Regions from separate parts of the Homo sapiens genome. Here all the other regions are linked to region 2. Evidence: fine-mapped expression QTL. A gene starts in region 2. Each other region holds a variant in brackets. All regions are shown on one strand. Distances are from middle to middle.

Evidence for each region. PIP is the estimated chance that this variant, and not a neighbour inherited with it, causes the effect.
Region 1: its variant is fine-mapped to the expression of CRELD1 in whole blood (INTERVAL, PIP 0.98).
Region 3: its variant is fine-mapped to the expression of CRELD1 in whole blood (TOPMed, PIP above 0.99).
Region 4: its variant is fine-mapped to the expression of CRELD1 in subcutaneous fat (FUSION, PIP 0.95).

Annotation. Positions count from the first base shown.
Region 1 is chr3:10,130,092-10,138,195 of GRCh38, forward strand. It overlaps LOC124906357 (small nucleolar RNA U13), which reads left to right and starts at 3,294; the gene lies at 3,294-3,397. The variant C/T (reference allele first, on the strand shown) is at 3,061.
Region 2 is chr3:9,929,046-9,937,146 of GRCh38, forward strand. CRELD1 (CRELD disulfide isomerase 1) reads left to right here and starts at 4,789. Exons shown (of 11, transcript NM_001077415.3): 1 at 4,789-4,875; 2 at 5,375-5,567; 3 at 5,790-5,872. The coding sequence starts at 5,394. IL17RC (interleukin 17 receptor C) reads left to right here. Exons shown (of 19, transcript NM_153460.4): 13 at 807-852; 14 at 983-1,104; 15 at 1,355-1,414; 16 at 1,850-1,898; 17 at 3,563-3,658; 18 at 3,775-3,813; 19 at 3,908-4,576. The coding sequence ends at 4,548. RefSeq lists silencers at 3,761-3,820, 4,401-4,730 and an enhancer at 4,831-5,200.
Region 3 is chr3:9,950,950-9,959,053 of GRCh38, forward strand. It overlaps PRRT3 (proline rich transmembrane protein 3), which reads right to left and starts at 1,459. Exons shown (of 4, transcript NM_207351.5): 1 at 1,373-1,459. It overlaps PRRT3-AS1 (PRRT3 antisense RNA 1), which reads left to right. Exons shown (of 4, transcript NR_046734.1): 4 at 3,655-3,838. RefSeq lists a silencer at 958-1,497. The variant C/T (reference allele first, on the strand shown) is at 4,603.
Region 4 is chr3:10,020,771-10,028,870 of GRCh38, forward strand. FANCD2 (FA complementation group D2) reads left to right here and starts at 5,667. Exons shown (of 44, transcript NM_001018115.3): 1 at 5,667-5,703; 2 at 7,855-7,951. The coding sequence starts at 7,888. It also overlaps the pseudogene CIDECP1. RefSeq lists enhancers at 3,858-4,494, 5,130-5,765, 5,766-6,400. The variant T/A (reference allele first, on the strand shown) is at 4,351.

The DNA.
Region 1 (8,104 bases), 200 kb after region 2:
AATGCTGAAAAAATCCCAAATCCAAAACACCTCTGGTCCCAAGCATTTCAGATAATACTCAGCCCGTACTATAAGCCACACTAAGTAGAGTACAGGCCAGGCGTGGTGACTCACACCTATAGTCCTAGCACTTTGGGAGGCTGAGGCAGGAGAATTGCTTGAGCCCAGGAATTTGAGACCAGCCTGGGCAACATAGTGCGACCCCCCTCTATAAAAGCAGTTTTTAAATTAGGAGGGTGTGGTGGCACAAGCCTATAGTCCCAGCTACTGGGAAGGCTGAAGTAGGAGGATCGCTTGAGCCCAGAAGGTCGAGGCTGCAGTGAGCTATGATCATGCCACTGCATTCCAGCCTTGGTGACAGAGTGAGACACCATCTCAAAAACATGGTGTGGGGGCTGGGTGCTGAGGCTTATGCCTCCCAGCACTTTGGGAGGCCGTGGCGGATGGATCACTTGAGGCCAGAAGTTCAACACCAGCCTGGCCAACAGCAAAACCCTGTCTCTACAATAAAAAGAAAAATAGAAAAAATAAACAAATAAACATGGTGGTGGGGACAGGAAGCCTGTTGTTCATCTCTAGGCTCTTTCCCAGTATTTATACTCAGATTCATGCTGTTGCCTGCAAAAAAGGTTGGCCCCCAGTTGCCTCTGGATAATATGATTTAGAAAATTTGCTCTGGCAGTTTGCAGACAATTGCTGCCGTAAATAATTGTTCAAAACTTCATGGCTGGGTGCAGTGGCTCACACCTGTAATCCCAGCATTTTGGGAGGCCAAGGTGGGCAGATCGCTTGAGGTCAGGAGTTCGAGACCAGCCTGGTCAATATGGTGAAACCCCATCTCTACTAAAAATGAAAAAAAAAAAAAAATTAGCCAGGCTTGATGATGTGTGCCTGTAATCCCAGCTACTCGGGAGGCTGAGGCATAAGAATCGCTCGAACCTTGGAGGTGGAATTTGCAGCAAGTTGAGGTCATGCCACTGCACTCCAGCCTGGGCAAGAGAGCTGGATTCTGTCTCAAAACAATAATAACAGCAACAACAACAACTAACATCTAAAGGCCATATGACTGTCAACTAGATTATACAATAAGAAAGGCTGATTTAGAGTTCTCAGGTTTTGTTGTTGTTGTTGTTTGTTTTTTGTGTTTTTTTTTTTGAGACAGGGTCTTTCTTTGTTACCCAGGCTGGAGTGCAGTGGCGCAATCTTGGTTCACTGCAACCTCTGTCTCCCAGGTTCAAGCGATTCTCATGCCTCAGCCTCCTGAAGAGCTGAGATTACAGGTATGCACCACCAGGCCCAGCTAATTTTTGTATTTTTAGTAGAGACAGGGTTTCACCAGGTTGGCCAGGCTGGGGTTTCTTTATTTAATTTTTCTTTATTTATTTGTTTTTTTTGTTTTTAGAGACAGGGTCTCACTATGCTGCTTAGGCTGGTCTCAAACTCCTGGGCTCAAGCAATCTTCCCGCCTTGGCCTCCCAAAGTGTTGGGCTTACAGGCATGAGCCACTGTGCCCGGCTGGTTTATTTTCTAATGAAAAGTTACCCTGGAGGATCACTGGAGGCCAGGAGTTTAAGACCAGCCTGGGCACCATAGTGAGACACCGTATCTGCTAAAAAAAAAAAAAAAAAAAAAAAAAAAAAAAGTAAAGTCACCCTGTGCACTAAATTGGCAAAAGATTAGGACTAGCAAGAATTAAAACTCACAGAACATTAGGGTGAGAAAGAATCTTAGAGATAATCTAGTCTGCCCCTGCCATTCTAGGAATATAGAAGCAAACCCAGACAGGTTGAGTGACAGACATGTCCATCCTGGTGGCAAAGCCAAAACTAAAACCTTATTCCCAGGTCAGTGCAGAGCCACTCAGAGTCTCATAAATAAGTTTTGTGTTTTCTGTACCATACCGGCCCTCTATTAGCCTCTCCCTGGATCTCACTGATACCTTGAGAGTGCAAAAAAGCAATTGTTCGTTACATTTATCTAAGTGGTGGTATCCATTGGCATCAACATTTGCATTTAGGACAAAGTTATCTTTGGCTCCTTTGAGCTTGCTACGACTATCAAGCGTGAAGTTTGTATTGTGCCTCAGCTGCATTTTCCAACCATAACAGTTTTTAAAAAAATAATTTTATTGGATAGGTGTGGTGGCTTATGCGTGTAATCCCATTACTCTGGGAGGCTGAGATGGGAAGATTGCTTGAGCCCAGGAGTTTTGAGGACAAACTGGGCAACCCAGAGAGACCGCCACCACAAAAAATAAACACAATTAGGCGGGTGTGGTGGTGCATGCCTGTAGTCCCAGTTACTCATGGGGCTGAGGTGGGAGGATCACCTAGGCCCAGGAGGTCATGGCTGTAGTGAGCCAAGATCACACCACTGAACTTCAGCCTGGGTGACAGAGCAAGACCCTGTCTCAATAAATGAATAAATGAAATGAAATGTTTCAATTCAATAAATGATAAATGCTTCAGTGTGGCTTTCACAAACATTTTGCCTAAGAAGTTGTTTATTAGCATTAAATACATTGTATGTCTATTATGTGTGAGGCACTGGAGATAAAATGAGAAACAGACAGTTTCTACTCTTAAGGAGCTTATAGTATAGTCATTTATTCACTGTATGTTCTCAAAGCAAAAGACACTAGAATGACATTTGCAGAAAAACCTCAGGAAAACACAACATACACAAAGGAGCAATGTGGTATCAACTTCACTGCATGATAAAGATACCATAGGCCAAAATTGTATTGTACATGGAAATGATGTTTGGGTTTTTGTTGCTGTTGTTATTTTTGTTTGTTTACCATTGTAAAAGTAATATATCACCACATATACATTATGGACATACACATGCATTTGAAAAGCATTAACAATTGGCCTGAATAAATATATAAAGAACTATTAAAACTCAGCAGTAAGAAAACAGCTAAATAAATGGACGAAATATTTGAACTGACACCTTGAAGACAAAAAACAGGCTGAGCCCGGTGGCTCACACCTGTAATCCAAGCACTTTGGGAAGCCAAGGCGGGTGGATCACCTGAGTTCAGAAGTTCGACATCAG[C/T]CTGGCCAACATGGCTAAACTCCGTCTCTACTAAAAATATAAAACTAGGCCAGTTGTGGTGGTGCACATCTATAGTCCCAGCTACTCAGGAGGCTGAGGCAGGAAAATCACTTGAACCTGGGAGGCGGAGGTTGCGCCACTACTCTCCAGCCTGGGCGACAGAGTGAGAGTCTGTCTCAAAAAAAAAAAAAAAAAAAAAAAAAAAAACAAGAATGGCAAACAAAATACAACAGAGTTTTTCATAGTTCATAAGCATGATGAGTGGGTTTTCATGTTCATGTGTGAGGTGTGCCTCCCTCAAACCTTGTTATGATGTCAACACATTGCCCATCTGATGTGAGAAGAAGTAAAAAAACAGTGAAAAGGCAGTTTACAGAATGGGAGAAAACATTTGCAAATCATACATCCAATAAGGAGTTAATATTCAAAATATATAAGGACCTCAATAGCAAGGAAACGATTTTAAAATGGGCAAAGGACCTAAGTAGACATTTCTCAACAGAAGACATTAAATGGCCAAAAGATAAGTGTTGGTGAGGACGTGGAGAAAACAGAACCCTCCCAGGTTCTTGGTGGGAATGTATATTAGTACAGCCATTATGGCAAACAGTTTGGAGGTTCCTGGAAAAACTAAAAATGGAATTACCATGTGATCCAACAATCTCACTTCTGGGTATATATACATAGGAAATGAAAATCAGTATTTTGAAGAGATATCTGCACTCCCATGTTCATTGCAGCACTATTCACAATAGCCACACTATGGAATCAAGTGTCCATTGCCAGACGAATGGATAAAGAAAATGTGCGCTGGGTGCGGTGGCTCATGCCTGTAATCCCAGCACATTGGGAGGCCAAGACGGGCAGATCACTTGAGATCAGGAATTTGAGACCAGCCTGGCCAACATGGCAAAACCCCATCTCTACTAAAAATACAAAATTAGCCGGGCGCAGTGGTGGGCGCCTGTAATCCCAGTTACTCTGGAGGCTGAGGCAGGAGAATCGCCTAAACCCGGGAGGCGGAGGTTGTGGTGAGCCGAGATCGCACCATTGCACTCCAGCCTGGGCAACAAGAGCGAAACTCCGTCTCAATCAATTAATCGATCAATAAAATACGTTGAACTCACAAAAGCAGGCAGTACAATGGTGGTTGCCAGGGCCAGGGGAGTTGAGATGAAACAGGGAGATATTGGTCAAAGGGTACGAGTCACCCTTTTGGTTGGGAGGAATATATTCTGGACATCTGTTATACAGCATGATGACTATAGTTAATAAATAATGTATATTTGAAAATTGTTAAGAGTGTAGTTTTTTTTTTTTTTCTAAGACGGGGTCTTGCTCTGTCACCCAGGCTGGAGTGCAGTGGTGCGATCTCGACTCACTGCAACCTCTGCCTCCTGGGTGACAGAGCAGGAGCACTGTCATCTTGGACAAACACCACCACTTTAAGTTCCAGCTCCCTTTCTAGCCTCATACATTTCAAGGAAATCACTTCTCTTCTAACCACAAGCAGCCAGAAAGAGCAGACAGTAAAACACAGATAAGACAGCTTGGGCACAGAGGGAAGTAGGGGGAAAGTCTACTTTCCCCCTACTTGGGTAACTGGGTAACTGCCAAACTTCACCCTCATACAATGTGCCCCAGTAAAACAGTGGGCCTTAATAGGCACATTTCTTTCCCTCAGGTGCACTAAGATAGGGAAGCTAAAAGCAGACTCAGGGGACATGCCTGCAGCTGCAGAAAGATGTACGGGAACAGACAACTCTCCCGCCCAGGTAAGCACAACGAAGAGACACAGAAGCAGTCGAAGCCTCTGATAAACTCTCCCACCCTGAATCCTTAAAAACTCTGTAAGATTGTGCAGCTTCTGACCTAACTTGGTCAGAAATCCCTCCCAGGTTTGAAATAAACCTGTTGACTGTCAACCCACCCTTCATGTTTCTCTCCTTTAATTCTGACACTGGGTTCAAGCGATTCTCCTGCCTCAGCCCCCCGCGTAGCTGGGACTACAAGCACCCACCACCATGCCTGGCTAATTTTTGTATTTTTAGTAGAGACAGGGTTTCACCATGTTGGCCAAGCTGGTCTCGAACTCCAGACCTCAGATGATCTGCCTACCTTGGCCTCCCAAAGTGCTGGGCTTACAGGCATGAGCCACCGTGCCCAGCCAAAAGAGTAGATCTTAAATGTTCTCACCACAAAAAAACTGAAGTAATAAATACATTAGCTTTATTTTTTAAATTTTTAATTATTTTACAAAATAGAGATAGGGTCTCACTGTGTTGCCCAGGCTGGTCCTGAACTCTGGGCTCAAGCAATCCTCCCACCTGGGTCTCCCAAAGTGCTGGGATTAACAGACGTGAGCCACTGCACTTGGCCAGCTTGATTATTTTTTAATGGCAAACAAGCTCATGAAAAGATGCTCAACATTGTTAGTCACTAGAGAAGTGTGTCCAGAATTGGTGGGTTCTTGGTCTCACTGACTTCAAGAATGAAGCTGCAGACCCTTGCGGTGAGTGTTACAGTTCTCAAAGGTGGCGTGTCCAGAGTTTGTTCCTTCTGATGTTCGGATGTGTTCAGAGTTTGTTCCTTCTGGTGGCTGCGTGGTCTTGCTGGCTCAGGAGTGAAGCTGCAGACCACCGCGAGTATTACAGCTTTTAAAGCACTGCATCTAGAGTTTTTGGTTCCTCCAAGTGGGTTCGTGGTCTTGCTGGCTTCAGCAGACCTTCACGGTGAGCGTTACAGCTCACAAAGGCAATGCGGACCCAAAGAGTAAGCAATAACAATATTTACCGCAACGACTAAAAGAACAAACCTCTCACGACATACAAATGGACCCAACCGGGTTGCCACTGCTAGCTCTGGCAGCCTGCTTTTATTCTCTTACCTGGCCCCACCCACATCCTGCTGATTGGTCCATTTTACAGAGAGCCCATTGGTCCATTTTACAGAGAGCTGATTGGTCCGTTTTGACAGGGTGCTGATTGGTGTGTTTACAATCCCTGAGCTAAACACAAAGGTTCTCCAAGTCCCCACCAGAGTAGCTAGATACAGAGTGTCGATTGGTGCATTCACAAACCCTGAGCTAGACACAGGGTGCTGATTGGTGTGTTTACAAACCTTGAGCTAGATACAGAGTGCCAATTGGTGTATTTACAATCCCTTACCTAGACATAAAGGTTCTCCAAGTCCCCACCAGACTTAGGAGCCCAGCTGGCTTCACCCAGTGGATCCTGCACCGGGGCGCAGGTGGAGCTGCCTGCCAGTCCCGCACCCTGCACCTGCACTCCTCAGCCCTCAGGTGGTTGATGGGACTGGGCGCAGTGGAGCAGGGGGTGGCGCTCGTCGGGGAGGCTCGGGTGGCACAGGAGCCCACGGAAGAGGGGGGAGGCTCAGGCATGGCGGGCTGCAGCTCCTGGGCCCTGCCCGGCTGGGAGGCAGCTAAGGCCCTGCGAGAAATTGAGCACAGCAGCTGCTGGCCCAGGTGATAAGCCCCTCACTGCCCTGGGCTTGCAGGCCGGCTGAGCCCACGCCCACCCGGAACTTGTGCTAGCCCACAAGCGCCACGGCAGCCCCGGTTCCCGCCCGCACCTCTCCCTCCACACCTCCCTGCAAGCTGAGGGAGCCGGCTCTGGCCTTGGCCAGCCCAGAAAGGGGCTCCCACAGTGCAGCCGCATGCTGGACAGCTCCTCAAGCGTGGCCAGAGTGGTGGCCAAGGCCAAGGAGGTGCCGAGAGTGAGCGAGGGCCGCGAGGGCTGCCAGCACATTGTCACCTCTCAGAAGTACAAATTAAACGTCAATAAGATACCACTATACATCAATTAGAATGGCTAAAATTTTTTTATTTTTAAAGAACAAAACCCCAGGCCAGGCGCGGTGGCTCACGCTTGTAATCCCAGCACTTTGGGAGGCCGAGGTGGGCGGATCACAAGGTCAGGAGATCGAGACCATCCTGGCTAACACGGTGAAACCCCGTCTCTACTAAAGATACGAAAAGTTAGCTGGGCGTGGTGGCGGGCGCCTGTAGCCCCAGCTACTTGGGAGGCTGAGGCAGGAGAATGACATGAACCCCGGAGGTGGAGGTTGCAGTGAGCCGAGATTGTGCCACTGTACTCCAGCCTGGGCGGCAGAGCGAGACTGTCTCAAAAAAAAAAAAAAGAACAAAACCTCAAATCTGATAATACCAACTGTAGACAAGAATGTGGAGCAACTGGAACAGTCATACATTGCTGGTGAGAATGCAAAATGATACAACTGCTCTGGGGAAACAGGTTAGCAATTTCTCATGAAGTTAAACATGTACTTTGTGTTTGACCTAGCAATCTCCTAGGTGATTCTCACCCAAGAGAAACAAAACTTATGTTTGCAAGAAACCTGTACACTAATGTATATAGCAACTTTATAATTGCTAAAAACTGGAAACAAACCAATATCTTGCAGTTGGTAAGTAGATAGTATGGAATACCCTTGGCAATAAAAATGAGTAAGTTATTATATACTACAACTTGGATGAATCTCAAATGCATTATGCTAAGTGAAAAAAAGCCAAACTCATAAGGCTACATATGATACGATTTTGTTGTGTGACATTCTGGAAAGGCAAAACTATAGGGACACAAGACAGACAGACCAGTGCTTGCCAGGGATTAACAGTGGAAGCAGGGTTTGACCATGAAGGAGTTTTGGGGGTGACAAGATACTCTGGTTTTTTTTTTTTTCTTGAGACAGAGTCTCGCTTTGTCGCCCAGGCTGGAGTGCAGTGGCACGATCTCAGCTCATTGCAAAAACTGGAAACGAAGTAAATATGGCAACATGCTAATTACATGTGACATTATCAGTATTTGCTTTATTATTGTACTTGTATATTTTAATTGGTCGACATACAAACAAGGCAAAATATATCCCCCTTAGAGAAAATTTGGAAAAGACAGAAAAGGAGATAGAACAAGTCACCAGTTGTCTTTATTTATTTATTGAAACGGAGTCTCGCTCTGTCGCCCAGGCTGGAGTCCGGTGGCGCCATCTCCGCTTACTGCAAGCTCTG
Region 2 (8,101 bases):
GGCTCACGCCTGTAATCCCAGCACTTTGGGAGGCCGAGGCGGGCAGATCACGAGGTCAGGACATCAAGACCATCCTGGCTAACATGGTGAAACCCCATCTCTACTAAAAATACAAAAAATTAGCCGGTCGTGGTGGTGGGCACCTGTAGTCCCAGCTACTAGGAAGGCTGGGGCAGGAGAATGGCGTGAACCTGGGAGGCTGAGCTTGCAGTGAGCTGAGAGGGCGCCACTGCACTCCAGCCTGGGTGACAGAGTGAGACTGGGCGACAGAGTGAAACTCCGTCTCAAAAAAAAAAAAAATTCACTCATTCAAGATTTTTTGAGCAGCACAAGTCACTGTTTTAGGCACTTGTGATAGACCCTAACATCTCTACCCTCATAGAACTTATATTGTAATGGAGAAAGGCAGGCAACAGACATTGTAAATAAATCATATAGTATCTTAAAATTGCATACAAATACCATGGGAAAGGGATAAGGTGGGACTGGGGTTGCAATTTTTAGCAGGGTGGTCATGTGAGAAAGGAATCTCTTTGAGAAGGTTAGATGAGAGGGGAACCATGCTCCGTAAGACATAAAAACAGCTTTAGGGTCAGAAGACGCTTTATACAGATGATCTCACAAGGCTGGGGCAGAGAAAGATGTAGTGATTCCTAATCACCCAGCCTTGAATCCACATCTGCCTCAGGTCAGATTGAGTGCAGATTCCCAACCCAACAGGCCTTCTGTTGCCTGCCCCATTCTGGTCTTTCTGCCTTTGGCTTTTGCTTTTCTTAGTGGCCCTAACCATGGTCTCTTCCCAGCAGGTGAACAGCTCGGAGAAGCTGCAGCTGCAGGAGTGCTTGTGGGCTGGTGAGTTGGGCCTGGGGGCAGCTGGGGCAGGGCCACCTCCTAGGGGTGAAGGTCAGGGCATGGGAGGCAGGCAAGTGGCCAATCCCAGCAAGGATGGGTCTTGGTCAGAGTGGCCTCTCACCCCTTCCAGACTCCCTGGGGCCTCTCAAAGACGATGTGCTACTGTTGGAGACACGAGGCCCCCAGGACAACAGATCCCTCTGTGCCTTGGAACCCAGTGGCTGTACTTCACTACCCAGCAAAGCCTCCACGGTTAGGACTGGGCGACCCTCCTCCACAGATCTCTCCAAATGCATCTCACATCTGGCCTCAAATTTTCACTCCATCCACCCTGTGCCGGTCTCTGGGAACATGGGGGGTGACTCAGACCAGGGCCATATTCAGCGGCATCACCAAAGTCTCCCAGTCCCCTCTACCTCATTCTACCCAGCTGTAGCCTGGTAGGTGCTGCCCTAAGGGTGCTACCTCCAGGTAACAGTGCCCCCATCCTTTGGCTTGGCAGAGGGCAGCTCGCCTTGGAGAGTACTTACTACAAGACCTGCAGTCAGGCCAGTGTCTGCAGGTGAGCTGGTGGAAGAAGGGCCCCACCTCAATGCCTAGGGGCAACAGGCCTAAAACTAGCACTCACCTACTGTCTATTTAGGCTTATTTTATGTTCAGCCCTGGGAAAGTTAAGAGTAGAAGAAGCACAGTTCCTATCCCCAAGGAGCACACTGTTGGCTAGACACCCATAAACAGATAACCACACCTACAGGTGCTAAGTTTTGGGTTCCAGGGAGAGCTTCCGGGAAGAATTTCTTCCTATAAGCCAGATTTGGTATGGAAGAAGTCATACCCTAGTCAGTGGGCACAGCACAAAGGCAGAGCAGCTGCAGGAACCTTAGCCGGGAGATATGCATAGTTGATGCTGGGAATTTGGAGATCAGGCCACCAGAGCTTGGTGAATATTGGAACACCTGGCTGGTGCCCTGGATTTGGTTCTGTTTGTATCTTACAGCTATGGGACGATGACTTGGGAGCGCTATGGGCCTGCCCCATGGACAAATGTGAGTATTGTAAGAACTGCCTTTCCTTTCTGTACCAGGAGTGGGGATCTTGACAGGGACCACTCTTGGGCACAGCACATGCAATGGCCTTGTCCTTCCCTGAGATCAGATAAACAGAGGGTCATTCCTTCATTCACTCAAAAAATGATGAGAGCTTGCAGGGATCGCAGGAACACCAAAAATATAAATCCTTGCCCCCGCCCCACCCCTAGAAGACTAGCAAGACATGAGCCAGTCACTTACATTTAAAGTGGGAGCTACTGAAGCACCACCAAGTGTTCAGTGCTGTAAATGCATACAATGTGGACCTGACCTGGGTGGGGTGAGGGGTGAGGGGCTCAGGGGGAAGGTTCCAGCAAAACTCTGAAGACTGAGCTAGGGGAAGGGGGTAGAGATACAGGGTCTTGGACAGGCAGGTTTCTGTCATGAGATAAAGATGCAGGAGACATGTAGGGGATTTGGATCTTATGTTGAGAGCAGCAGGAGCTACGATCAAATTTTTATATATTTCACACACACACACACACATATATATATATATATATATATATATATATATACTTATTTTTTTATTTATTTTTGAGGCAGAGTCTCACTCTGTTGCCCAGGCTGGAGTGCAATGGCGCGATCTCGGCTAACTGCAACCTCTGCCTCCCGGGTTCAAGCAATTCTCTACCTCAGCCTCCCGGGTAGCTGGGATTAATAGGCGCCTGCCACCATGCCCTGCTAATTTTTGTATTTTTAGTAGAGATGGGGTTTCACCATCTTGGCCAGGCTGGTCTTGAACTCCTGACCTCGTGATCCGCCCGCGTCGGCCTCCCAAAGTGCTGGGATTATAGTCGTGAGTCACCGCACCTGGCCCAAATTTATATTTTTAAAAGATCTCTGAGGCTGTCATGAATCAATTCAAGGCAAATCAATTGGAGGTAAAAAAAAAAAAAAAAAGACAGGGCAGGGACACCAGGTAGTTGCAGACACCCAGGACAGCAAGATCAAGGGCCCAGCAACCCTAGCTTAGGGGAGAAAAACAGCTGACATTTTAGCACTTAAGATGCTCGGCATTGTGTTAAGTATGTATTAACACATTGTGTTAAGCTTTATATGTATTAATATATTTAGTCCTCACACCAACCCTATGACACAGGTACAACTTTACAGAGGAGAAAACTGAGGCAGAGGGTGACATTACTTATTCAAAGACCCCTAAACAGATGGAGCTATATTCATCCACTGGCTCTGACACTGTGCTGTGGACTCTGGGCAAATCATTTCTTCGTTTTTTGTTTTGTTTTGTTTTGTTTTGAGAGGAGTCTCACCCTGTCGCCCAGGCTGGAGTGCAATGGCGCGATCTCGGCTCACTGCAACCTCTGCCTCCCGAGTTCAAGCGATTCTCTTGCCTCAGCCTCCCGAGTAGCTGGGATTACAGGCGTGTGCCACCACGCCCGGCTAATTTTTTGTATTTTTAGTAGAGACGGGGTTTCACCGTGTTAGCCAGGATGGTCTTGATGTCCTGACCTCGTGATCTGCCCGCCTCGGCCTCCCGAAGTGCTGGGATTATATAAAGGCATGAGCCACCGCACCCGGCCCAATTCATTTCTGTTAAGTCTCAGTTTTTCTTCTCTGTGGAGGGTAAGTTTCTAACTCTTCTTCTCTGGGTCTCCCAGACATCCACAAGCGCTGGGCCCTCGTGTGGCTGGCCTGCCTACTCTTTGCCGCTGCGCTTTCCCTCATCCTCCTTCTCAAAAAGGATCACGCGAAAGGTGAGCGCTTCCCGGCTCCCCATTCCCCTGGGGGAGGACCAGAGTGGCTGTGGGAGTTCTCCGAGGGAAAGCGGCGGCCGAGCTCACTGGCTGCCTCCGCCCCTCTCCCCTAACAGGGTGGCTGAGGCTCTTGAAACAGGACGTCCGCTCGGGGGGTGAGTGGGAGCAAGCGCTGGGCGGAGGGCCGCCCCCGGGGAGCCAGGCCTGTGCCAGCTCACCTCTTCCCTCCCCATCTGTTTTCTCCGGCAGCGGCCGCCAGGGGCCGCGCGGCTCTGCTCCTCTACTCAGCCGATGACTCGGGTTTCGAGCGCCTGGTGGGCGCCCTGGCGTCGGCCCTGTGCCAGCTGCCGCTGCGCGTGGCCGTAGACCTGTGGAGCCGTCGTGAACTGAGCGCGCAGGGGCCCGTGGCTTGGTTTCACGCGCAGCGGCGCCAGACCCTGCAGGAGGGCGGCGTGGTGGTCTTGCTCTTCTCTCCCGGTGCGGTGGCGCTGTGCAGCGAGTGGCTACAGGATGGGGTGTCCGGGCCCGGGGCGCACGGCCCGCACGACGCCTTCCGCGCCTCGCTCAGCTGCGTGCTGCCCGACTTCTTGCAGGGCCGGGCGCCCGGCAGCTACGTGGGGGCCTGCTTCGACAGGCTGCTCCACCCGGACGCCGTACCCGCCCTTTTCCGCACCGTGCCCGTCTTCACACTGCCCTCCCAACTGCCAGACTTCCTGGGGGCCCTGCAGCAGCCTCGCGCCCCGCGTTCCGGGCGGCTCCAAGAGAGAGCGGAGCAAGTGTCCCGGGCCCTTCAGCCAGCCCTGGATAGCTACTTCCATCCCCCGGGGACTCCCGCGCCGGGACGCGGGGTGGGACCAGGCGCGGGACCTGGGGCGGGGGACGGGACTTAAATAAAGGCAGACGCTGTTTTTCTACCCATGTGGCCCACACGCGTCTCCGTTTCAGTGGCGGGGCTGGCAAACGTCATTCCCTAGCCCCGCGGCCCTTTAAAGCCCGGACAGGTGCAGCTCGGTGCCGCCTCTGGTTGGCTGGCGTGGGGTGACGTAATGGCACATGGCCCGTCGCCATTGGCTGGGCGGCAAGCTCCGCCCCCTGGACTGCGGCGCGGGTGGGGGTTGTGCGTTTTACGCAGGCTGTGGCAGCGACGCGGTGAGGAGACGGCCCACGGCGCCCGCGGGCTGGGGCGGTCGCTTCTTCCTTCTCCGTGGCCTACGAGGGTCTGGATCCTTCTCTGCCGGCTCGTGGGCCGTGCCTTTGCCCTTCTGCGAGGCCCTGAATCTGATCCCTTCCCTTCATATCCGGATCCGGGCTCCTCCCTCCAAGCCCGGGGTTCCGGACACCTCCCCCAAGACAACCCCTCTGGCCTCCTCTCCTTCAGTACTTGGAATCTGATCTCTTCTCCCTAATTCTGCGGATCCGGCCCCTAATATTCTTTATCAGACCCTCAGACAAGAGGCTGACTTCTGCCCCCTTGTCAAGGAGCGAGGCCACTTTCCTCTCCACCCCATGCTAGCGAGGATAACTTATTTCTCTTCTGGAATTGCATCTTATGCGCCTTTCCCCACCCATCCCCACAGCCCCTGCAATACCCAGTTTGGCCTCTTTTGCTTGTAATAACGCAGATCCCAGCGCCACGGCACCTTAGAACAGACCTTTTTCTTTCTCGCGTGGGGCCTGACTCCTTCAGTGAAGCCTCTCCACGCCCTCTATCTGCAGGTCCCCAGCCTGGGTAAAGATGGCCCCATGGCCCCCGAAGGGCCTAGTCCCAGCTATGCTCTGGGGCCTCAGCCTCTTCCTCAACCTCCCAGGACCTATCTGGCTCCAGCCCTCTCCACCTCCCCAGTCTTCTCCCCCGCCTCAGCCCCATCCGTGTCATACCTGCCGGGGACTGGTTGACAGCTTTAACAAGGTGGGTGCACCGGCAGCCTCGTTAGAGGGGAACACAGCGATTTAGAGTGGGGAACTCTGGGATGCAAATCTGCGTGGATTTAAGTTTCATCTTGGTCTCTTACTAGTTGTATGGCCCTAGGCAGGTTGCCTTTCTGTGCCTCAGTTTCCTAGTCAGTAGAACAGTGAAGTGCTAGCATGTGCCAGGCACTGTACTTAGCTATTACTAATTTTCTGTTTCCAGGGCCTGGAGAGAACCATCCGGGACAACTTTGGAGGTGGAAACACTGCCTGGGAGGAAGAGAATTTGTCCAAATACAAAGACAGGTAAGGGGCTGCTGGGGGAAGGGGTGTATATTCCCCTCCCCGCCAAATCTCTGCTCTGCTGGTGTAGGGCTAGGAACTCTTGGGGAGCACTTATTCATTCAACAAATAGCACTGAACATCTATAGTATAGCAGTAAACAAGGCAAGCAAAATGCCCCCTTCCTGGAGCTCACATTCTAGTAGAGAAGACAAGCAGTGAATGAGTAAGTGAATAATATTATGTCAGATGAAGAACAAACAGTGAAGCACGGTAGACTGCAGGACGGTGGGAGGCAAGGTGTTCAAGGTTTGGCATTTGAACAGAGAGACAGGAAGTGAAGAAGCGAGCTATGTGACAGGGAGGGAATTGGGCAGAGGATGGGACTGAGCTTGGTGTATTTGAGAAGTGGCTGGAGTGGAGTGAGCCAAGGGGAGAGTGCTAGAAGGTGAAGGCAAAGGCTTAAGCCTCGAGGGCTACAGAAAAGAGTTTAGATTTTTTTTGGAGTGTAATGGGAAGCTCTTGGAAGGCTATGAGCAGAAAAAGTGATACTGTCTTCTCTACACCTTTAAAGATTACTCACACTGCTATGTAGCAAACGGATTGTAAGGGGCAAGGGCGGAGGAAGCAGGGAGACCAGTTTGGGAGGCAAGTGCATCATCTAGGTACAAAGGCAACACAAGCTAGTGTGGTATCTAGTGGAGGACATGATGAAGAGGTCACAGTCTGGGTATATTTTGCAGAGAGAACAATAGGACCTGGTGATAGATTCATTATGGGTATAGAGAAACAGTAGAATAAAAGATGCTTACTAGATTTTGGGCCTGAGCAACTGGGTGAGTAGTGCAGCTGTTTTCTAAGATGGTGAGATGCGAAACCGAGAAGGTTTAGGGGAGGGGTGGGATGTGGTGTTCTTTGAACGTATTGGGCTGAAATGTCCATTAGACATCCAGGTAGACTCCATACAAATCTGGAATTCAGAAAAGAGTAGGAATTGGAAACAGGAATTTGAGAGTTGTCATTATATAGTCAGTATGTAAAGAAAGCCATGGGAAGGATACAGAAAGCCATTATATAGTCAATATATGTAATACAGAAAGCCATTTATATAGTCAGTATGTAAAGAAAGGCATGGGAAGGATACAGAAAGGCGAGCCCTGAGCCCTCCAGCTTTTCAAAGTCAGATGGAAGAGGAGTCAGCAAAGGCTCAGAGTTAGACCTGGTTGTCGGTTCTTAACCTCTCAGAGCCACAGTTTCTTCACCTGTAAAATGGGGATATTAATACCTGGTTTGCCTATTTCATAGAAGTGTGGAAAAGGCTTAACTGGGATGCCCACTAGAAATAAAGGTTTTGTTATTATGTAACATTGGTCATTTTCTCTTTTCCTTCGCCGGGCCTGAGTTTCCTCATTCAGGAATGAGGGGATTGGCTAAGACAACCCCAGAGGCACTTCCAGCTTTGTAATGGCTCCTGCGTTGCTTGCTTTTTTAAATCACCTCCTATATGCCAGGCACTGTGCCAGACCCTTTAAATACAGGATATAAGACATCAAATATTTATATATGTGTGTATATATATGTGTGTGTGTATATATATATGTGTGTGTATATATATGTGCATATATGTCTGCGTATATATATGTGCGTATATATATGCGTATATATATATATATATGTATATATTTGTGGTAAAATACACATAAAAAATTTCCCATTAAAGACATTTAATAATATTTACAATGTTGTGTAACCATCACCACTATGTAGTTCCAGAACATTTTCATTACCCCCCCAAAAAATCCTATACCTATTACACAGCCACTCCCTATTCTCCCCTTCCCTCGGCTCTTGGCAATCACTAATTTGTGTTAGTCAAGCAGAAATTATGGATTTGCTGATTTCATTGGAATCATAAAATATGTGGCCTTTTGTGTCTGGCTAGTTTCACTTAGCATAATGTTTTCAAGGTTCACCCATACCGTAGCATATATCAATACTTATTCCTTTTTATGGCTGAATAATATTCTCATTTGGCTGTACCACATTTTGTTTAACCATGCATCAGTTGATGGACATCTGCATTGTTTCTACCTTTTGGCTGTTGTGAATAGTGCTGCTATGAACATTGTCTACAAGTTTTCGTTTGAACACCTGTTTTCCATTCTTTTGGGTCTATATCCAGTAGTGGAATTGGCAGGTCCTATGGCAATTCCATGTTTTACTTATTGAGGAACTGCTTTTCCACAGTGGTGA
Region 3 (8,104 bases), 22 kb after region 2:
TTCCCATCAGTAAAATGGGGATAATAAGCATGCCTAACTCAAGGCATGAGACAAATAACCAAACAGGTATGGGCGAGGTTCATACCTGATGCTTGACAAGCGTTACACATTCCTCTTCCCGCCTTCCTTCCCTCATCTTCCTGGGCACTTGTCACTCTGGTCTGATTCTATAATAATCTCCTGCCTCTTATTTCAAACCTGCAGCCTCCAGTATATACCTGGCCCCACGTGGATATCCCCTAAAAGTTCCTGTTCTCGAGAGCCTGTCAGTGGGCCAGGGAGGCAGGAAGGGGCCCCACCACCAGGAGAGGTTTCATGGAGGGTGCGAGAGCTGAAGCCTGGGTGTGTTTGGCGGCAGAGGCCCTGCTCTTTTCCTCTCTGGGGAGCAGCTGTCCCCAAAGCTTCCTGGCTGTTAACCCATGGTGGCTCACAGACACCTTAAGAAGCCACTGAAAACCCCTGGTGCTCTCCCGGGGAAAAGACCCAGGCTCACCGAAAGTTGTGAACAATTTCAAGGGGTTCAAAGACCTTTGAGTCCCATCCTCCAAACTCGAGTTTAGACTCTGTCTTAAAGCCTTGTTAGTTCATTTCTCAAACATTCACGGAGCCCCATGGGCTGCTCCTGGTCTAGGCTAGGTGCTGGGGGCCCAGAGACAGGGCTTTGCTCCAGGGTTGGGAGTAGGGGTGCGCTGAGACGCCCCTAACACAGGTACTGGCTAAAAACAGTGCTCCTGTGTTTAGTTCTTTCCCAGTGAGGCTCCTGCGCTGAGCTTAGCAACACGTCACTCCGCCCTCCCAATACAAGGTGTGGGAACAGCCATTTCACAGGGGGAAGAAACGGGGGTTCAGAGAGGGTGAGCAACTCCCCCAAGGTCACACAGCTGAGTGGACACAATCGGGGTTGTGAAACCCTCGGAGGCTCATCTTCCACAGGAGGTCCAAAAAGCTTTGCCGAGAAAACGGCTGAATGGGGCCTCCAAAGATAAACATGCCATCTGCCTACCACTGCCAACCCAAGAGATGTGGGCACCTGCGGACAAGGCGGGGGCTTGCCCAGCCCTGGGCTCCCACTCTGCTGGAGAGGCTGTGGGGGGTGGCGGATCTCTCTGCCGCAGGGACTGGGGAGAGGCCGGCCTGGGGGCAGGGCGAGGCCGTTGCGGGGCAGCCTCGGAGCTGGTCCATCTCGGGTTACCTCTCCTCCTCCTCCTCCTCCTCCTCCGTCTCCTCTCTCCCTGGCTCCGCGCCTTCCCGCAGTGTCCTGGATGGGGGTGGGCGCCGTGCAGGCCTGGTCGCCTGCGCCCGCGACGGGGGCAGCAGGCCACGCTCCCCGTCGGGGTCCCGCCATCGCCCCCTCCCTGGGCCAGCTCCTCACCTGCGCGCCGCAGCCCCCGTGTTCACCTTGCGCGCGTCCCTGCAGCCGATCGCCGCGCCGCATCCTCCGAGATGCTCAGACTCGGCTAACAGAGCCCGGCGCTGCCGATCGCGAGCCCGCCCACAGGAGCGCAGCCCTGCTTAACTCTTTCCCCTTAGGGGTGGACTCTTCTGTCAACCCTGACTTCCCCTCGCTCAGGGATTGTCAGGGCTCAGAGTGGAACCGAGGTCATCTCTGAGGGATGTGGAAATGTCTTCTGCAGCATCCCTGAAAACGGGGCAGCTAGCCTCTGCTTGCATACCTCATGGGACGGGGAGCTCACTTCCTTTCTATATCCCTACATCCTTTTAGGTAAATCCTACCTACAGCTTGGTATGTATCCTTCAGATTCTTCTCAATGTACAGTTACATGTACATCTTAAATAGAAATGACATCATACTGTATACTTTTTTTTTTTTTTTTTGAGACAGTCTTGCTCTGTCGCCCAGGCTGGAGTGCAGTGGCGTGATCTCGGCTCACTGCAACCTCCGCCTCCCAGGTTCAAGTGGTTCTCCTGCCTCAGCCTCCCTAGTAACCATGCCTGGCTAATTTTTATATTTTTAGTGGAGACAGGGTTTCACCATGTTGGCCAGGGTGGTCTCGAACTCCTGACCTCAGGTGATCAGCCCGCCTCGGACCCCCAAAGTGTTGGGATTACAGGCGTCAGCCACCGTGCCCAGCCACTGTACACATTTCTGTAATTTGTCTTTTTCACTTTCCAATATATTCTGGCACATTTTTCATGTAAATATCTATAGATCTATATCATTTCTTGTATCCACTGTTGAGAATTCCAGCATATGGTCAGCTAGTTATTGTTCTTTATCCTGTCCCCTGTAATTGGACATAGGTTGTTTCTAGCCTTTTGCTCGCAGGGATAATGGAGCAGGGGCCATTCCTTGCTTAACACATCACTGTGCACGTACACTAGTGCACCTACCAGATAATTGCCTAGCCGAGGCATGGTAGTAAAATCTATGGGTCTGCATATGGGGCTGGTAGACACTGTCAAAATGTTCTTGGTCTTTCTTTGAACACCTCTTGATATACTAAACATCCATTATTAGGCTCAATTCCTTAAGGGAAAGCCACACAGGAAATATATGTGGTTATCAAAAATGAGATAGGGCTGGGTGCAGTAGCTCACACCTGTAATCCCAGCACTTTGGGAGGCCTAGAGAGGAGGATCATTTTGAGCCCAGGAGTTCAAGACCAGCATGGGCAAGATGGTGAGACTTTTTTAAATTAAAAAACAAACAAAAAAACAAAAAAACTAGCTGGGCGTGGTGGTACATGCCTGTAGTCCTACCTACTCCAGAGGCTGAGGCCAGAGAATCATTTGAGCCCAAGAGGTCAAGATTGCAGTAAGCTATGGCCACTGGAGTGTCACTGGAGTGCATTGACCACTCTGTCCATTGACCACAAGCTGTGTCACTGGAGTGCAATGACCACTGCACTCCAGCCTGGGCAGTAGAGCGAGACTGACAAAAAAAAAAAAAAAAAAAAAAAAGAAGAAGAAGAAGAAGAAGAAAATTTGGCCTGTATAATGGCTCATGCCTATATTCCCAGCACTTTGGGAGGCCAAGGCTGGAGGACTGCTTGAACCCAGGAGTTCGAGACCAGCCTGGGCAACATGGCAAAACCCCATCTCTACCAAAAAAAAAAAAAAAAAATTAGCCAAGTGTGGTGGTGCGCACCTGGGTCCCAGATACTCAGGAGGGTTATGTGGGAGGATCACTTCAGTCCAGGAGCCAGAGGTTGCAGTGAGCCAAGGTCGCACCACCGCACTCCAGCCTGGGTGACAGAAAGAGACCCAGTATCAAATAAAAAATCAAATTTCACTTAAAAAAGAAAAAGAAAAAATTCTTCCTAGGGCTGAGCTGACATCTCCCTCCCAATGGCTTCCTACCTCTAGCTCTCACAGAAAAGCAATACTCAGGCCCCAGTTGTGTCTGACGTGTTGCAGTTTGAAGAATATTCCATCCCTAATGGCTGGTAAATGGTGGGGCCTGCATTCAGCTGCTTGACTCTGGGAGAGGGTGCAGGCCTTGCCCGTTTCACACATGACCTGACCAGCTCTGTTTTCCTTGTTGGAGCCACTTCAGAATTGTAAAGGCATCTCTCATTTCTCTAGAGTCTTCTTTCTCCAGGACAAACACTCCGAGTTTTTCAGCTGTTCCTTGCAGGACAGGATTCTGGGTTCTCACCATGTGGAATCTCTTCTCTGTTTGCTTCTTACCAGCTCAACAACGCCCCTCTGAAAGTAGGACTCTTGGAAATGAACCTTGTTGGGAGTAAAGCTGAACCTTCACCTCTCCTTTCCAGGATTCTACTCCATTCATACGGCCTCACACTGAATTAATGTTTCTAGCAGCCACATTACTTTGTTACCCAATTGATCTAGTAGTAAAGTCTTCCCATCTCTTCATGTACCACTGGTTTATTGACTCTTAATGTAGGATTCTACATTTGTTTGTTGTTTATCTTGTTAGATCCAGCCTGTTGTTACAATCTTGTAGGAAGTTAACTGGATCCTGATTCTACATATAGCTGATTGACATTTTGGAGGGTTTTGCAATAACCATTTCCCTTCCTGACAGCATCCTAACTTCCTTTGGGGGACCTGTGTCTGTTCCCATGTGGGCAGTCTTGGCCAGAATGCAGTCCTAGGGCCCCCTACAGAAGCTGAGGAGTCTGGATCCTTCCTCTCACTTCCCCTTGTGAACTCGCTGGGAGCCTCCTTTGGAGATGTTGAGATTCCCTCCACAGGCTCAGAGCTGGCCCGGTTCCCTTCCTCAGTTTCTCCTGAGAAGGGCAGGTGTGTGAGTGCCTGACCTCCCAGTCCATGCAGGGCCATCTGGCTGCTTGCTGGCTGCCCTCTTTGGAACCAGGGGCCCCAATCCCATCGCGTTTCTAAACCACCAACCGGCAGGCATTCTGAGATTCCAAACAAATGCAAGAGAGATTAGGATCCCTTTGGCTAGAGGCCAAGGTGAAAGCTGATCCTGCGGAAAGAGGAGACTGGCTGGGGTGGAGGTGAATGTAAGCGGGGAACACGAGGTGCGCAGGTGTGGACGGGGAGTATCTCAGCTCCAGATGGAGCTCCCAGCATCCTTCTGCAGACTCTGGGACGGCGGGGATAAATGGAAGGTGACTCCAAGTATACAAGGGATGGTCAATATCTCCTGTT[C/T]ACCAAGCACTTGGTCTGCCAAAAACTATGCTACACACCATTATTCTTTTTAAGTCCTCATGACAACCCTAGGTTTTATGTTTTTCATTATACAGCTGGCAAGCTGAAGCTCAGAGAAGTTCAATAACTTGTTAAAGGTCATGCAGCAACTAAGGGGCCAAGCCACAGGCCTGACTTTAGAACTAGTGCTCTTTGTTTTGAGATGGAATCTTGCTTTTGTATTTTTAGTAGAGGCAGGGTTTCGCCATGTTGGCCAGGCTGGTCTCAAACTCTTGGCCTCAAGTGATCAGCCTGCCTCGCCCTCCCAAAGTGCTAGGATTACAGGCATGAGTCACCACGCCTGGCCAGAACCAGTGCTCTTAATAGTAATGACACCCTCCTGCCCCTCTGGAAGAACCTGAGAGAGGAAAGTGGGGGAGAGGGAAACCCCAGGCCTTCCAGGCGGCCCCTACTGTGTTAGGAGTTAATTGAGTCCATGAAAATAGGCCCTCCAGTTTGGATCTCTGTTGACTTCAAACCAACAGAGCTGAAAGTTGTTGTGACTCCCCAAGGAAAGAGTGAGAAAGAAAAGGCAAAGAAGATGGGGCTGGCAATGATGAAATCTCCTGCTTAGACAAAGCCCAGGACAGTTGGTTGGCATTTTCATTCTGGCTGGTTGCTCTGGCAGGCATGAGAAAATAAACAAAAGGGAGAACAGGTGGGAGAAAGTGCAGGCTGGTGAACCTTCTCTGTGCTCTGCCCACTGTCCTGAACTCTGAGGGCACGGGGAGTTATACTCTTTTACCAAACTGGCCAAATTCAGCCTGAAGGGCTCCTGGAGTCTTAGCCTACTCATTCTCAGATTTTAGCTTCCACCAACACCAACTAAACAAACCTGATCTTTTTAAAGAGGTTTTTTGTTTGTTTTTTGAGACAGAGTCTCTCACTTTCACCCAGGCTGGAGGGCAGTGGCACAATCTCAGCTCACTGTAACCTCCGCCTCCTGAGTTCAAGCCGTTTTCCTGCCTCAGCCACCCGAGTAGCTGGGACTACAGGAATGCACCACCAGGCCTGGCTGATTTTTGTATTTTTGGCAGAGATGGGGTTTCACCATGTTGGCCAGGCCGGTCTCAAACTCCTGACCTCAAGTGATCTGCCTGCCTTGGCCTCCCAAAGTGCTGGGATTACAGGCGTGAGCCACCACACCTGGCCAAGAGTTATTTATTTTTTTTGTGTGTGAAATCTGATGCCACTTTAAAATCAGCAGATCCTTACCCCATTCCCTTTCACTCTCAATTCCCACTTTCTGGAAGTAATTATTGTCAAGTCTTTCTGGTACTTCTGGTTATTTCTTCTGGTATTTATCCTATTTTCACATCAGATTTATGCGGCTAATGTTAATTATTTTCAGTTTTGGGGGTTAATCTATTGACTACTATGAAGATAATATGAAAATGTAGTTCTTCTATTACTTTCCATATTTTTCTGTAGTTTTTTGGTATCATTATTCTGCATTTACAATACTAGAACTGTGAAACAAGTATTCAAGCTGATTCAAGAAGTGTGCTGTGAGGATAATAATTCCCTCTCCAGACATTGTTTCTCCTGCAGTAAGTACTGCTTGGTTTTTCATTTGCTTAATTTTCCATGCATCTATCACTAATTCATTCCCCTTAATCTTTCCTTAAAGTGAAAAACAATTGAAAGATTTAATTTCCCATTCAGATAACATTTTCAGAGATTCACAGAATTCTACAGAGACAACAAACAACATGGTTTCTTCGACAGATGAATGTCTTGAAAAAAAAGGGAGGGAGGGAAAACTGTTACATAAGAGATTTAAGAGATATAGCAACCAAATGCCACGTGGGGGCCTCGTTGGGAGCCTCAGTCAAATAAATCCACTGTGGAAAAGACATTTTAAGACAATTAGGGAAATATGAACACAGATTGAGTCTTAGGACATATTAAGGTATAAGCATGTTTGCATCGGGTGAAATAATGGCCTTGTGGGTTATGTGTAAAAAATTCCATATCTGTTATGATACCTACGACTTATGTGTGAAATGACATACTTGTGATTTACTTTGAAAATATCCAACTTCCCTGCTCCCTCCCCTCCCACAAAAAAGTGATTTTGGGAGATACATTAAAAAATTCTGGGCCAGGGGCAGTGGCTCACGCCTGTAGTCCCAGCACTTTGGGAGGCCAAGTCAGGTGAATCACCTGAGGTCAGGAGTTCGAGACCAGCCTGGCCAACATGGTGAAACCCCGTCTCTACTAAAAATCCAAAAATTAGCCAGATGCAGTGGTGCACGCCTATAATCCCAGCTACTCGGGAGGCTGAGGCACGAGAATCGCTTGAACCCGGGAGGCAGAGGTTGCAGTGAGCCAAGATCGTGCCACTGCACGCCAGCCTGGGTGACAGAGCAAGATTCTGTCTCAAAAAAAAAAAAAAATTCTGGTAAAATAGTGATAATTACTTTATTATTATTTATTTATCGTTTTGAGACAGGGTCTCGCTCTGTCTTCCAGGCTGGAGTGCAGTGGTGCAATGATGGCTCACTGCAGCCTTGACCTCCTGGGCTCAAGCAATCCTTCCACCTCATCCTCCTCGGTAGCTGGGACTACAGGCATGTGCCACCATGCCTGGCTGATTTTTTTTTTCATTTTCTTGTGAGGCCTCACTATGTTGCCTAAACTGGTCTCCAACTCCCAGGCTCAAGTGATCCTCCCGCCTCACCCTCCCAAAGTACTTGGAATGCAGGCATGAGACATTGTGCCTAACCTATTTTACTGTTTTAGAGACAGGGTCTCAATCTGTTGCCCAGGCTGGAGTGCAGTGGCACAGTCATGGCTCACTGTAATCTTCAACTTCTGGGCTCAAGCAACCACCCACCTGCCTCAGGCTCCTGAGTAGCTGGGACTACAGGCATACGCCACCATGCCCAGATAACTTTATTTTTTGTAGAGACAGGGTCTTGCTATGTTGCCGGGCCAGTCTTGAACTCCTGGCCTCAAGCAATCCTCCCACCTCAGCCTCCTAAAGTGCAAGGATTACGGGCGTGAGCCACTGCACCTGGTCAGTACTTTATTCTTTTTACTGCTGAATAATACGCCATTGTATGGCTATACCATATTTCATTTATCCATCTGTTAGCTGATAGACATTTGGGTTGTTTCCCACCTTGTGGCTACTATGAATATTCATGTATACATAATTGTGTAGACATGTTTTCTTTTTCTTCTTTCTTTTTTTTTTTTTTTTTTTGAGACAGAGTCTCGCTTTGTGGCCCAGTCGGTAGCCCAGGCTGGAGTGCAGTAGTGCGATCTCAGCTCACTGCAACCTCTGGCTCTCATGTTCAAGCAATTCTCCTGCCTCAGCCTCCTGAGTAGCTGGGACTACAGGAGGCTCGATCCACCTGCCTTGGTCTCCTAAAGTGCTGGAATTACAGGCATGAGCCAACGCACCTGATCTGGACATATGTTTTCTTTTCTTTTTTTTTTGAGATGGAGTCTCACC
Region 4 (8,100 bases), 92 kb after region 2:
ATTGGCAAACATAGAAAGTGGAGTGGAGGCTACCAGTGTCTGGAGGAGGAATGGAGACTTAGTGCTTCAGGGGGACAGAGTTTCTGGTTAAGATGATGCAAGAGGTCTAGAAATGGATGGTGGTGATGGCTGGGCAACATTGTGAACGTACTTAATGGCACTGAATTGTACACTTAAAATGGTCCAAACAATAGATTTTATGCTATACATATTTACTATAATTAAAAAAAACCTAGTGATACCACTAAGTCACTAAACTGATTCCAGTCACCAGACTGTGTTTAGGTCGAAGTGTCCCACCTCCCCTAACTGGACTGAGTTTAAGGTCTGAGACCTTTTCTTTTTCTGAGACAGAGTCTTATTCTGTCGCCCAGGCTGGAGTACAATGGTGTGATCTCGGCTCACTGCAACCTTCACATTCCAGTTTCCAGTGATTCTCCTGCCTCAGCCTCCTGAGTAGCTGGGATTACAGCAGTGTGTCACCACGCCCGGCTAATTTTTGTATTTTTAGTAAAGACGGGGGTTTCACCTTGTTGCCCAGGCTGGTCTCGAACTCCTGACCTCAGGTGATTCACCTCCCTCGGCCTCCCAAAGTGCTAGGATTACAGGTGTGAGCCACTGCCCCCAGCTGGTCTGAAACTTCTTGTTCATAATTTTGAAATAATGCAGACTACTGGTGGTAGGTAGTCTGAGGTCAAGAGGTGGCATGAGATGGTAGTATCCTGGAAGAAGTAGCCGAGGAGGAAAATGGAACTCTCAGCCACAGAACCAGGCTCAAGCCTGCCACCCACTGTTGTCTCTGGCAAGCAGACCCACACAGCCTCAGTTTCCTCAACTGCAGATTGGGTCTGCAGGAGATCAACTAAGAAAGCAAGAAGGTCTGATATGTTCTAGCTACATGTGATCTGGTAGAACTCTTGGGATCCTGAGCAGGATTTCTCAGAAGCCCCATGTGAATAGAGATCGCCTGTGTCTTCATTTATTCTACAATCATTTAAATAACTACTATGTGTCAGCATTCACCAAGGTGCTGAAGGCCACAAAAATTCCTGCCCTCAGGGAACTTGTTCTATCTGGTATTTTGTTCATCTCTGAATCTGTAGTTACAGCATAGGGCCAGGCACACAGTGGGCACTCAGGAAACACTGAATGAAGGAACTGGAGAAGAATAGACTATCGGAAAGATGGACTAGCAGCCATGCTCTGCTGCTTGCAAGTTTTGCGGCTTTGGACTGATTCAATCACTTCAGCCTCAGTGGCTACATCCACCCAATGGGGAAGGATGCCCCAGGGCGCCACTGGAGCGGCAGAATTTGGGAAACATCACCATAACGGCATGCAGCTTCTAACCTCACATATTCTCATGCTTCCTGAGACACTTGGTTAGGCTTTCAAAATAAGTTTTAAGAAAAGTTCATTATATAGTACAAATGACTCTGGTCCATAAGACTTGCAAACTAATTCTGTCCTATGGAGGGAAGATTATTTCATCCCTCCCATCCCCATGGGAGAAAAAACCCAATTTTGTATGTATACATTTATCTCTTTTTTTCTTCTTTTTAGAGACAAGGCCTCATGCTGTTGCCCAGGCTGGAGTACACAATGGTATGGTCATATCTCACTGCAGCCTCAAACTCCTGGGCTCAGGCAATCCTCCCACCTAGCTGGGATTATAGGCACATACTACCACTGCTCCCAGCGTGCATGCCTCTCACTATGTTGCTCAGGCTGGTCTCAAACTGTGTGTGTGTGTGTGTGTGTGTGTGTGTGTATGTGTGTGTGTGTGTGTCTCTCTCTATGTTGCCCAGGGGTGTGTGTGTGTGTGTGTGTGCGCATGTGTCTCTCTCTCTCACTGTGTTGCCCAGGCTGGTCTCAAACTCCTGGGCTCAAGAGATCCTCCTGCCGTGTGTGTGTGTAAGTGTGTGTGTCTCTCTCTCTCTCTCTCACTATTGCCGAGGCTGGTCTCAAGCTCCTGGGCTCAAGAGATCCTCCTGCCTTGAACTCCCAAAGTGCTGGGATTCCAGGTGAGAGCTACTGCACCCAGCCTATCTCATCATTCTTACTGGACCTATATATGTGTGGGATTTTGAATTCTCCTTTGAACTGATTGTAACTTCTTGCTAGTTCTCTCATTAATTAATGAATTCAATGAAATCTTTGACACATACTTTTTTTTTTTTTTTTTGGTAAGACACTTGCTGTTTTGCCCAGGCTGGAGTGCAGTGACACAATCTCGCCTCACTGTCACCTCCACCTCCTGGGTTCAAACGATTCTCCTGCTTCAGGCTCCTGAGTAGTTGGGATTACAGGCATGCACTGCCATGTCCAGCTAATTTTTGTAGAGATTGGGTTTTGCCATGTTGGCCAGGCTGGTCTCAAACTCCTGACCTCAAGTGATCCACCCACCTTGGCCTCCCAAAGTGCTGGGATTAGAGGCGTGAGCCACTATGCCTGGCCAACACATGTTCATTTTTAAAAAACTGACTAGAAGACTACTTAGGAAAACTTCCTATTTCAATGAAAAAATGTAGTTGCTAGAGTGGAAAGTAGTCATAAAAATAAAATGCATCCAGGTTCCACCAGGAGGAACATGTGCACCCCTGGGCACACGCCAGTGTTGTCCACAGCACTTCGAGAGCCCATCAGGCTCCGTGTTGTCTGATACAGGCTATGCTTTGTCAGCACCAAAGCCAGACCCAGGTGCTGAGAAGGCTGAGTCCATGTGAACAGACAGGGGCTCTCCCATTGCCCGTACCCACCTTGTCCCCAGGAAACCCCAATTTGCTCACTTCATGATGCGTTTGGCCCCACAGCAGTGCAGATCATAGGAAAGGGAGTACGTATCATAAAAAGTCGCCTTCATGTTCAGGCAGCCAATGAAGTCCTGTGGGTTCAGCTTGTACAGGTCAAAGGTTACACGGGCCACATCAATCTTCTTGGCAGGCTTATGGGAGAGGGACTGTGGGTGCCTCGTCCCCTGCATCGAGACAACCAGATGGTTAGCACCCCTAAAGACTCTCTACTTACGCTTATGATAGGCTTATGACTACTGCATTCCAGCCTATTAGTCACCGCAGTGTTAGATAGTGGCGATGATTGCACAACTTTGTGAATATACTAAAAAACCCTGAATTGTAAACTTTTAGAGGAAGGAAACCATACCACAATTAAAAGGTAAATGTAACTTACATTATATTTTATTGGACAATATTTTTCTAGACTATGAACCCTGAAGCCAGGAGCCAAGAGGTACCCTGATAAAGTCTCTGGGTAGTGATTCCACAACAGAGGGCCTGGGCTCCAGTTCCACCTCATAGAGTCCAGCCCACTTGTTCTTTCCCTGGCAGCCAAGGAGCTATGAAGTGGGGCTTCCCAGACTGGCTCTGTGGCTCCATAGGGATGGCAGAAGCATCACTGACCTTATTCCCCAGCTTCAGCCTGGGCAACAGAGCAAGACAATGTTTCAAAAAAAAAAAAAAAAAAATTCTGACAGGTATTAAACCAAAGCTGAAAAATACATGAATAAAATATATTAGACTAGGTTTGGGGATAGAATGTGTGTAAAAAATGGTTCTCGAACTTGAAGAATATACTACTGACTTTTTGGAAAGGAGAAGACATAGATTCTTAAGAATATGGAACTCTGGTTTGAGAGGTACCGAGTTTAAAGTTTTATTCTAAGACAATGTCATTTAGGCCTGGTACAGTGGCTCACACTTATAATCCCAGCACTTTGGGAGGCTGAGATGGGAGGATCCCTTGAGCCCAGGAATTTGAGACCAACTGGGCAACATAGTGAGACCCTGTCTCTGCCAAAAATAAATAGATGTCTTTCAGTTACAAATTACAAAGCTTTATCTTTATAACAGTACAAGGACTTATTTTTAGATATTCACAAAAATAAAAATACAAAATTAAAAATTTCTTGCGGAATTTGCAAACTTCAGATAACACAGATATTGAGTGTTTAGAAAATACAGGATAATTTAAGATTGCTTATTTAGGGTCTTAAAATACCTCAGGGTCATGATATTCAACTCCATTTCTACAAAACTATTCAGCAGCGTAAATATAGGAGAGCTAGATGAATTTCTTTTGATTACACTGCCTGGAAAAGTCTTGAATTATCGTAGACTGAACAAGTGTTTTTTCGTTTGTTTTTCTGGAGACAGGGTCTTGCTTTGTCACCCAGGCTGGACCAAAAAGGTCGAGGCTGCAGTGATTGAGGCTGCAATCGCAGTGGTGCGATCATGGCTCACTTCAGCCTCGAACTCCCGGGCTCAAGTGATCCTCACACCTCAGCCTCCCGAGTAGCTGGGACTACAGGCACACACCACTGCACCTGGCTAA[T/A]GTTTAAATTTTTTTGTAGAGACAGTGGTCTCATTGTGTTGCCCAGGCTGGTCTTGAACTCCAGGGCTCAAGCGATCCTCCCACCTCAGCCTCCCAAAGTATTGAGATTACAGGTGAGAGCCACCACGCCTGGCTGTGAACAAGTTTTTTGATGGCCTACCATGTGCCTTGCACTCTGCTGCATGCTATGGGGTATAGAGTAAGGCAAGGTCATGACCCTGCGCTCAGAGTTTCTGTTCAAGTGATAAAATATGCAAACGGAAAAATAATAGATACTTAATCTAGTGCAACAAGAGCGAAACTCCGTCTCAAAAATTAAATTAAGTTAAATTAAATAAATAAATAAATACTGCAATGAAGTATGTGAGGAAGTTGCCTCCACCCTAGGAAGGGAAATGATAATTACAATTCCTTACATGTCTAACAGCAGTGTTACAGATTGCAAAGCGCTTTGGTGCTTAGCATCTCAGCTAACCATTGGAACAGTAATTTGGTAGAATGCAGATTATCACACTCACTTGACTGGATGTTACAAATACTAAAAGCTATAAAGCACCAGGCACTCTTCCCAACGAAAGGGTGGGATGGGATAGTTCATAGGTAAACCCACCGAGGGTTGGCGACTAACCTAAAGGATTAACAGCACCGTTTTTGTTTTTTGTTTTTAACACTCAATACGTCCTAGATCCTGTGCTAAGGGATTTACAGACATCATCTAATTTGATTCCCACCTGTCTATGAGGGAGGTACTGTTATTATCCCCATTTCACAGAGGACAAAAGTGAAACACAGAGGTAACGGGTAAGGTCACCTTGCCAGTGGGGGCGAGACGTGAACCTAGGCAAACTGACACAACGCCTGCACTTTCTTGTCCAAGGTCACGGCGGTGTGAGGTAGGCTGGGGAAGGGAGGGCGCTGACCTGTCAGATACTTGTTCCTGGGTGAGCTTCTTGTCGCTCTCCAGCAGGATGGACACGTAGTGGCGGATCATGTCTACGAAGAGTGATAACGATGGGTAGGACCACCCAGAGGCAGATGTTGGAGTCAAGCAACAGTTCTGGCCCTGCCATCTTCACTGAAAGCTGGCTCCCAGCCGGTGATGGGCGAGCTTCTCTTCACCGGGGCGCAGTTGCTTCTCTCTGACGTCGCCTCTGGGCCTTCTCTCGCCCCTATGCCCGGCTAGCACAGAACTCTGCTGCAGCGGTGAGCCCAGCTTATTGCCTTCAGCTGGGCTGCCCGGCCTTCCACTTCCGGCGCGGAAGTTGGCGTCACGTCATGGCGCGCCTCGGTGGCGTCAGAGCGGCGTCGGGCCTGGCGGGAAAGTCGAAAACTACGGGCGGCGACGGCTTCTCGGTGAGTAAGTGGAGCAATGGTCGTAGTCTCTCGAGGCCCCGCTCCCCTGCGGCCTAATCTCTAAGTCCGGGCCGCGGTCGGCGTTCTCCTCTGGGGCTCCGCGCCCCGAACCTTGGCTTCCTCATCTGCCCTGAGATGGGATAATCCCCACAGGTACCTTTCTGCGTCATTAAAATGCGGAAACGAGAAAGGCTTTTACCCTCACCCGCTTCCCGATGAACTAATCCAGGCAGTCGGCCTCATCTCACTTCTGTTGGGCTTTTCTGGAAGCCAGATGGTATCGCACGTGTTAAAGGCGGGTGCCTGGAAGCCGGACGTGCTGACAAGACTTAGTTTTTCCATCTGCAAGATGGCTGATAATGGTTATCCGTATTAACCGAAGCGGCGATAAATAAAAAGTTTAGCACAGGGCCCGGTACCTCGTAAATGTTAACCATTATTAGAAGTCATTATAATCATCAAGAGTAAGTATAGGTGGTGAAGAGCGCAGGTGCTGAAGCCAGACTCCGAGTTAGAATCCCAGTTCTGCCCGTGATGATGAGAATAATGGTACCCACCTCAAAAAGTTTTGTGGGAAATAAATGAATTATTAAATATAAAGCACTTGAAACAGTTCTTGTTAGCTTTTAGCATTTCCCCTGCACTGCGAGCTTTTTTCACTCTGAATATTCTCAGAAATTTTCCTTATGCCGGTAACTATGCTGGGCATTAGGGACATTGAGTAAGTGAGACTGGGTTCCTGCTCTCAAAGAGCCCCAGTCTAGTGTGAGGTAAGGGCCCCTAGGTATACCCTGTGGAGCAGGGAAGCTGCAGTAGCAAACTCCCTTAGGGATAGGAGGAACACTTTTCAAGGAAGATGACATTCGATTGAATGTTTAGATCTGAGTAGGAATTTCCAGGCAAATAAGAGCACTTCAGATGAAAAGAACACCTTTGTGCAAAGGCACTGAGACCACGAAGGTTCTGATTTACAAGATTAAAAGGTCATGTGATTCAGGCACTTCCCCCACCTCTGCTGTCTGATTTCTAACTCCACATCTCCTTGTTTCAGTATGAGTATCTATTTGCCTGGACTCCTCTTCTCCTACCCCTTCTACTGGCTAACTGCTGTTTCAGCCCTCAAGTCCCTGCCTAAAAATCACTTCTTCAGGCCGGGCGCGGTTGGCTCACGCCTGTAATCCCAGCACTTTGGGAGTCCGAGGCGGGCGGATTATGAGGTTATGAGATCAAGACTATCCTGGGTAACACGGTGAAACCCCGTCTCTACTAAAAATACAAAAAATTAGCCGGGCGTGGTGGCGGGCGCCTGTAGTCCCAGCTACTTGGGAAGCTGAGGCAGGAGAATGGTGTGAACCCGGGAGGTGGAGCTTGCAGTGAGCCGAGGCTGCACCACTGCACTCCAGCCTGGGTGACAGAGTGAGACTCCGTCTCAAAAAAAAAAAAAAAAAAAATCACTTCTTTAGGCCGGGCGGCTCACACCTGTAATCCCAGCACTTTGGGAGGCCGAGGTGGGTGGATCACTTGAGGTCAGGAGTTTGAGACCAGCCTAGCCGACATGGTGAAACCCTGTCTCTACTAAAAAAAAAAAAAAAAAAATTCAAGGAGATTGTCCCTAAGAAATGGTCCTTGCTTCTCTTTACCACCCTTACTAGCAACTAGACTAAATTTCCTAGTAAGCCCTCATAGAACCTGTACTTTTATAGCACTTACATAACTGTAGTTCAGTACATTAAGGCTATTTGTTACCATACTGTAAATTCCCTGAGGACAGGGATCATGTCTGTCTAGTTCACAGTTGTAACCCCAGCACCTAGCACAGTCCCTAACATATAGTATTGAAATCATGAATTAAAGGACAGGTACGTTGGGGATAGATAATGGAGGGTCTTGAATCTCAGATGGAGAGTGATGGGTTTTATCCTTCAGCAACAGCGAAGTAGTCTGCCTAAAGAGGTAACTAAGACTTGAAAGGAAGGTAGTATTGGCTAGATGTAAGAGTTGAAATTTGCTTAGCACCTAGGTTTAGGTAGCATTAATATGGAGATGTGAGCCCCTCTGATTTTGGATAGAGCAGTTTTCTTTGAACAATAGCTTTAACTTCTCAGAATTTATCTTCTAGAGGGTAACTTCTGTTTCCCGATTTTGCTCTAGGAAGTAATTTAAGTGCACAAGACATTGGTCAAAATGGTTTCCAAAAGAAGACTGTCAAAATCTGAGGATAAAGAGAGCCTGACAGAAGATGCCTCCAGTAAGTATCTAGTCATTTGTTGCTTTATTTCCTGTAGCAATGTGTGAGGCATGTGAGAGATATAAAGTTCCTGCTTTTCAAGTGCTGAGAATCTTCAAAGTGTAATGAATGGAGTGCACAGAATTAAGGGAGAAATATCAGATTTGGGA